Homo sapiens: one gene and its partner. The protein of the gene in region 1 purifies or fractionates together with the protein of each later gene. This does not show direct contact. Each region holds a gene or a part of one and is shown on either strand. Other genes may lie near its edges.

Region 1 (3,822 bases):
GTGATATTAGACAGAGGAGACATTTGATTTATTCAAAATTTACCGGGTGCCCACTAGTGTATGTCAGGAATACTCCATGCTAGGAACTCAGGCTTAAAAGACACTAACCATAATCTCTGTAAGATCTTAGAGAGTAATGGAAAAAAGAACAGGGGCTATAAAGAGTTTCATATGCCATTTAGCCTATCACTTAGTTTTATCCTATATTTATTTCCATATGATAGCCAACAGAAATAGGGCATTAAAATTGAGTTTAAAAAAATGTACACCAAGCACAGAGAGCCAATAATTGAACAGACAGGAAGGTATGCTCCTTCTTACACTAGAAACTGGAGGGACTTAACAGCTATGAACCCATTATCTGCTATTATCTTGGCCTTTCATAGTATACCTTTGGTTTATGAAGACTTGACTTGATAATACCCTTTTATTGATGTATTTTGTCATTTCTTAGAGAAATGACCTCAAAGCTAGAAAGAAAACCAAGGTAATCATAATATTTAGAAATTCCTGTGTACGTGAGGTTCCCTGATTCTTCTGAAAAACTGCAACCACTGACTGAACACAGAACGTCATTAGTGTACCAAAAGAGATGCAGTGGTACCTCAGCCATAAATGAAAACCTTATAAAATTACGGTATATCATGAATTACAAATGAATCTATCACATTACAAAACACACACACACCTCACCTCTCTTTCAGCTCAAGCATCCCTTCTTCGGGGAAGTCTTCCCAAACCGTCCTGGCTAGAAGTCCCCCTCTTATATGCTTACCGCATCACATACTCCTACTTTGTAGCACTTACCACACCTATGTTTTTACATTTACCTTTCAAATCTGTCCCCACAAGAATGTAAATTCCACGAGAAGAGCTGTATCTGTTTTCACTCATCACTGTAAGCCTAGTGATACATATGCTCAATAAATATTTGTTTAATGAAAGAAAGGGTTTGTGATATTAGCTCTGGTGGTGGGGTTAGGTGTACTTTTCACTTTCTGCTTCATCTAATTCTATATTTTTTAAAATAAACATATTTCTTGAAGAGTCAGAGGAAAAACAGGTTTCAAAATTAAAGTGCAGCTATACCTCAGCCATATTATGAACCCTTACTAAAGAGAGGATTTACATTATCATGAGTCATTCCTGCTTCAAAACAATTCTCTCTAATATACTTGGGGTTATACAAATTTGGAGGTTGAAACTAAGAAAAATCAAATCAGAAACTAGGTACAAATACTTCCATAACTATAGTACTCTAGGTTAATCAACAGAAATACAGAAATGATTATCATAAGGTACACCTACTTCTTTAAGTATATGTGCATTAACTGACTCAGCAGCTATAACAGCCATGAATCATTAAACACTTATTGAGCACCTACTAACTAGCAGACATTGTAGGACATGCAGGGGTTTATCAGCACTAGCCAAGGGTGAAGGAATAAATGAGAAGGCCTTTTTCTAAGTCCCATACAAAGGTACTATATGAGTGAAGAGTGGGAATAGCAAAAATGCAAACGGGACAGAATCTCCCTTCACAGAATAACGTAGCACGACAGACACCAAACTATACCCCTATATGTAAGTACAATGAGATAAACTCAAGTTACTAGAGGAACACAGAGAGACAGAGAAAGGGCATGTAATCCAGGTATCTAGCACTTTTCACAGTGTGTCCTGTTACTACAAATGAGCTGTTGCTCCTCAAAACAATGAAATCAAACTCCAGAAGCATTATTCCTGCTCCCAATAAATATTAGTAAGAACTCATTCTTCAAAAGCATTTATCTTCCTATACTGGAATGTCTTTTGAACCTCAGATATTACAAATGCCATTTTCTGCTTATACCACTTTTCTTAATCCCTGGCCACTAATTTTTAGCTCTATCGTTATTTAAGTCTCAGCTTTAGCTCTCATCCCAGATACCTTCCCTGATCACCCCATAATCCTATATAGAGTTTCCCTAATCTCTAATCCAATACTATGTTCATTTTCTTCACTGTATTAACTGATTCATAATAATTTGTTCATTTACTTTATTTCTGTCTCTCGCACTAGAATATAATCTTTAAAAAACAGTACCACATACATTACAATAACTTGTCAAATTCATTCAAGTCATTCATCCAAAAGAATATTTATTAAGATAGCATTTTAGGAGCTGGGAATATAGAAGTGAATAAAAGGAACCAAAACACTTGTCTTCATTTAGCTTATATTCCAGCAGAAGGAGGCCAACGAGATATAGTAAATGATATGTTTGTTAGGTGAAAAGTGCTATAGAGAAAAATTAAAACAGGGGAAGGTGGACAAGAAGTCCTGGAAGAGAGGTGTAATTTTAAACAGGGTGGCTGGGCTGGGTCTCACCAAGAAGGTGCCAACTGAGTTAAAATGTTAAGGAAATAAAAGAGTGAGCCAACAGGCATATATCTAGGGGAAAACCATTACAGGTAAAGGCAACAGGCAATGCAAAGATCCTAAGGTAGGAGCATGTCTGGCATGCTTCTGGCATGAAGAGCATATACTGGCTAGAAGACCAGTATAGCCTGAGAACACAGTGTACGAGGGGGAAAAGGTAAGGAGTGGGGTCAAAGAGATACCAGAGAGCCAGAATGGCCATGCTGGATATAAAGGCTTTAGCTTTTACAGTACTCTAAGGAAACTGTGAACTCAGTGGAGAGCTCTGAGCACAGACATGATAGTTCTCGACTTACACTATTAAAGAATTATCCTGGGCCGAGGTGGGCAAATTACCTGAGGTCAGGAGTTCAAGACCAGCCTGGCGAACATGGTGAAACCCCGTCTCTACGAAAAATACAAAAATTAGCTGGGTGTGGTGGCATGTGCCTGTAATTCCAGCTACTTGGGAGGCTGAGGAAGGAGAATTGCTTGAGCCCGGGAGGCAGAGGTTGCAGTGAGCCAAGATCATACCACTGCACTCTAGCCTGGCCAACAAAGCTAGACTTCATCTCAAAAAAAAAAAAAAAAAGAGTTATCCTGGGCCAGGCGTGGTGGCTCATGCCTGTAATCCCAGTACTTTGGAAGGCCAAGGCAGGAGAATCACTTGAGCTCAGCGGTTCAAGCCTAGCCTGGGCAACATAGTTTTTAAAACTCCATCTCTACAAAAAAAAATTGTTTTTAATTAAAAAATTAGCCAGGTGCAGTGGCACATGCCTGTGATCCCATCTACTTAGGAGGCTGAGGTGGGAGGATCACTTGAGCCCAAGAGGTCAAGGTAGCAGTGAGCCAAGATCATGCCACTGCACTCCAGCCTGGGTGACAGCACAAGACTCCGTCTCAAAATAAATAAATAAATCCTGGCTGGTATGTTGAGAATAAGCAGGAGGAGGGGTGGACAGCAATGATAAAAGCAGCGAGACCAGTTCAGAGATGCAGTAATCTAAGGGAGGGGAGAAGATGACGATGGCTTACAACCAGGGTGATAGCAGTGGGGTGGTGAGCAGCAGACATATGAAAGACAGTAAGCTTCCTGATGAAGGAGATCATGGGGTGTATGAGAACAAAGGAGTTAACAATGATTCCAAGGTATCAGCCTGGACAACTGGAAGAATGGGGTTTGACATCAACTGATTTGGCAAATGCAGATAAGAAAGCTAAAGGAAGATTCAGGGTTAAGTTTTATACACATTAACCATATGAATAAAATGTTGCTAAGCTTCACAAAGCTTCTATTTCAAATGAATTCATGTTGAATCAATAACCCAAAGGTCCTGTTCTTACCTAAGGTTATGGAAGTACTACATCCTGACCAACTTTCATAATAAACACACACACAAACTGACTTCAATACCCACCCC
Region 2 (3,822 bases), on another chromosome or scaffold:
AGCCTGGGCAACACAAAAAGATCCTGTCTCTAACAACAACAAAAGGTAGTATAGTGTATAGTACAGTGGTCAAGGATATGAACCATGGTAGCAGTATCTGGGTTTAAGTACCAACTGTGCCACTTTTCAGCTGTATTGAGCAAGCTACATAATCTCTTTATGCCTCAATTTTCTCATCTGAAAAAATTAAGTTAATAATGAAGTACAGGGTGGGCTTGGTGGCTCACACCTATAATTCTAGCAGTTTGGCAGGCTGAGCGGGAGGATCACTTGAACCTAGGAGTTTGAGACCAGCCTGGGCAACATAGTGAGATCTGGTCACTACAAATAAAAAAAAAAAAATCAAAAAATTTGCCAGGCGTGGTGGCATGCAGCTGTGGTCCCAGCTACTTGGGAGGTTAAGGCGGGAGGATCACTTGAGCCCAGGAGGTTGATACAGTAGTGAGATGTGATGGCACCACTGCACTCCAACGTGGGTGACAAAGCAAGACCCTGTCTCAGGGAAAAAAAAAAAATCAACATACTGCTCAATGCAGTGGAGCACATGTATAATCCCAGCTACTATGGGGTCTGAGGTGACGGAATGGCTTGAGCCTAGGAGTGCGAGGCTGTAGTACATTGTGATAGGCCTGTGGCTAGCCACCATGCTCCAGCCTGGAAAATAAAGCAAGACCCCATCTCTCAAAAAATACCAGTGTTTCATTTCACTCATCCTGCTGCTAACCCAACACACATATCCATGTGTGCTGGCACCATATAAGTGTTCTGTATGACTTCAGAGATTAACAGAAGAATGGTGGATTGGAAAAAAATGGTAACAAGTGGTCAGCAGGAGGCTGATGAGAGTTACTGTGGAAAACCCAAATCAAGAGGGCTGGATGCCATCTTTGGTCAGTTTCCACATCTGTAATTAGGAGTTGGCCCAGGCAAATTCTTTTTTTCTTTTTCTCTTTTTTGAGACAGAGTTTTGCTCTGTCACCCAGGCTCGAGCGCAGTGGCACGATCTTGGTTCACTGCAACCTCCGCCTCTGGCCAGACCAGGCAAATTCTAAAGTCCCTTTCAGCATTAAAAATCAGTGTAAAGGCCAGGTACAGTGGCTCACGCCTGTAATCCTAGAACTTTGGGAGGCCGAGGCAGGCGGATCACGAGGTCAGGAGTTCAAGACCAGCCTGACCAATATGGTGAAACCCTGTCTCTACTAAAAATACAAAAAATAGCCGGGCATTGTGGCGCGCGCTTATAGTCCCAGCTACTCGGGAGGCTGAGGTAGGAGAAGTGCTTGAACCCGTGAGGCGGAGGTTGCAGTGAGCCGAGATCACACCACTGCACTCCAGCCTGGGCGACAGAGCAAGACTCCGTCTCCAGAAAAAAGATTTTCTTTTTTTTATTTTTGCTCTCTTTACCCTCCCTGTCTGACTTAAATTAAGTCCATACACAGAAATTTCAAAGTCTGTCTGCCTCCAACACACCTGTTTCACAGTGCAGCCTGTAAACATTGCTGATATAGTGCCTACAAAATATTTTAGGGCTTTCCATAAAGAATCCCAACCAAAAGTAGTATGTCTTCGCCAGGTGTCATGGTTCATGCCTACAATCCCAGCACTTCGGGAGGCAGATGTAGGAGGATCACTTGCTGATAGGAGTTTAAGACCAGCCTGGGTAATGCAGTGAGACCCCATTCCTATTTTTTGTTTAATTATTATTATTATTTTTTTGGAGATGGAGTCTCGCTCTGTCGCTCAGGCTGGAGTGCAGTGGCACAATCTCGGCTCACTGCAACCTCTGCCTCCTGGGTTCAAGTGATTCTCCTGCCTCAGCCTCCTGAGTAGCTGGGATTACAGGCGTCTGCCACCACATCCAGCTAATTTTTGTATTTTATTTTATTTTATTTTATTTTATTTTTTGAGACAGAGTCTCACTCTTGTCACCCAGGCTGGAGTGCAAAGGGGCAATCTCAGTTCACCACAACCTCCGCCTCTCAGGTTCAAAGGATTCTCCTGCCTCAGCCTCCCGAGTAGCTGTGATTACAGGCATGCATCACCACGCCCAGCTAATTTTGTATTTTTAGTAGAGATGGGGTTTCTCCATGTTGGTCAGGCTGGTCTCGAACTCCCAACCTCAGGTGATCCGCCCACCTCGGCCTCCCAAAGTGCTGGGATTACAGGCATAAGCCACCGCGCCCGGCCTAATTTTTTTTTTTTTTTTTGAGACAGAGTCTCACTCTGTCACCCAGGCTGGAGTGGCGCAATATCGGCTCACTGCAGCCTCTGCCTCCCGGGTTCCAGCGATTGTCCTGCCTTAGCCTCCCAGGTAGCCGGGATTATAAGCACACGCCACTATGTCCAGCTGATTTTTATATTTTTAGTAGAGACGGGGTTTTACCATGTTGGCCAGGCTGGTCTCGAACTCCTGACCTCAGGTGATCTGCCCACATCAGCCTCCCAAAGTGCTAGGATTACAGGCATGAGCCACCTCACCTGGCCTATTTTTTTTTTTTTTTTTTTTTTGAGACAGAGCCTTGCTCTGTCACCCGGGCTGCAGTGCAGTGGCACAATCTCTGCTCACTGCAAGCTCCACCTCCCGGGTTCACGCCATTCTCCTGCCTCAGCCTCCCAAGTAGCTGCGACTATAGGCGCCCGTGCCCAGCTAATTTTTTTTGTATTGTTAGTAGAGACGGGGTTTCACCGTGGTCTCGATCTCCTGACCTCGTGATCCGCCCACCTCGGCCTCCCAAAGTGCTGGGATTACCGGCGTGAGCCACCACGCCCGGCTGGCCTATTTTAATTTTTTAAGACAGAATCTTGCTCTATTGCCCAGGCTGGAGTGCAGTGGTGTGATCTCGGCTCACTGCAACTTCCACCTCCCACCTTCTGGGAGGCCGAGGCAGGCAGATCATCTGAGGTCAGGAGTTCGAGACAAGCCTGGCCAACATGGTGAAACCCGTCTCTACTAAAAATACAAAAATTAGCCAGGCATGGTGGCGCATGCCTGTAATCCCAGCTACATGGGAGGCTGAGGCAGGAGAATCGCTTGAACCCGGGAGGTGAAAGTTGGAGTGAGCCAAGATTGCACCACTGCTCTCCAGCCTGGGTAACAAGAGTGAAAGAGCGAAACTCCGTCTCACAAAAAAAAAAAAAAAGGTAATATGTCCTTTTGTCCTTTGTTCCTATCGGCTCTAATTATAATGCAATGATTTTCTGATCGGGTATTTTGAAGTCCTATTATAATAAGTCAACGCTAGAGCCACAAATGAAATGAAGTACATTTTGCAAGTATAGGTAAGGATGTTAACTCAGGAATAAATTATCATTAATTAAACCATCAAGTACTTTGAAGTGGTGACATGGGCATCGGTATGCTTTCCCTTATAAGTTGGTATAAGTTAGTTTTGATCATTTATATATAATAGGCGCTTGCAAATAGTACAGGCTAACCCTGGGGAAAAAATAGTAGTTTTAACTAAGCCCAATTCCCCCAAACATCTAGTTCATGATATAATTAACTGGAAAATCAATCAAATTTAAGCCCTTGTTTTTCAAATTACTTTTTTTTTTTTTCAGACAGAGTCTCATTCTGTTGTCCAGGCTGGAGTACAGTGACACAATCTCGGCTCATTGAACCTCCACCTCCAGGATTCAAGTGATTCTCTCCCACCTCAGCCTCCAGAGTAGCTGGGACTACAGGCATGTGCCACCATGCCCAGCTAATTTTTGTATGTTTAGTAGAGACGGGGTTTTGCCATGTTGGCCAGGCGGGTCTCGAACTCCTGATCTCAGGTGACCCGCCCGCCTTGGCCTCCCAAAGTGCTGGGATTACAGGTG

Evidence for each region.
Region 2: the proteins of SMAD5 (region 1) and TAF12 purify together in Homo sapiens (affinity purification with mass spectrometry, with the first as the bait; one large-scale study listed by BioGRID). This does not show direct contact.

Annotation. Positions count from the first base shown.
Region 1 is NC_000005.10:136,139,195-136,143,016, reverse strand, and holds part of SMAD5 (mothers against decapentaplegic homolog 5), read right to left. Parts: intron 1-3,822. UniProt on the Homo sapiens protein: Transcriptional regulator that plays a role in various cellular processes including embryonic development, cell differentiation, angiogenesis and tissue homeostasis.
Region 2 is NC_000001.11:28,636,302-28,640,123, forward strand, and holds part of TAF12 (transcription initiation factor TFIID subunit 12), read right to left. Parts: intron 1-3,822. UniProt on the Homo sapiens protein: The TFIID basal transcription factor complex plays a major role in the initiation of RNA polymerase II (Pol II)-dependent transcription.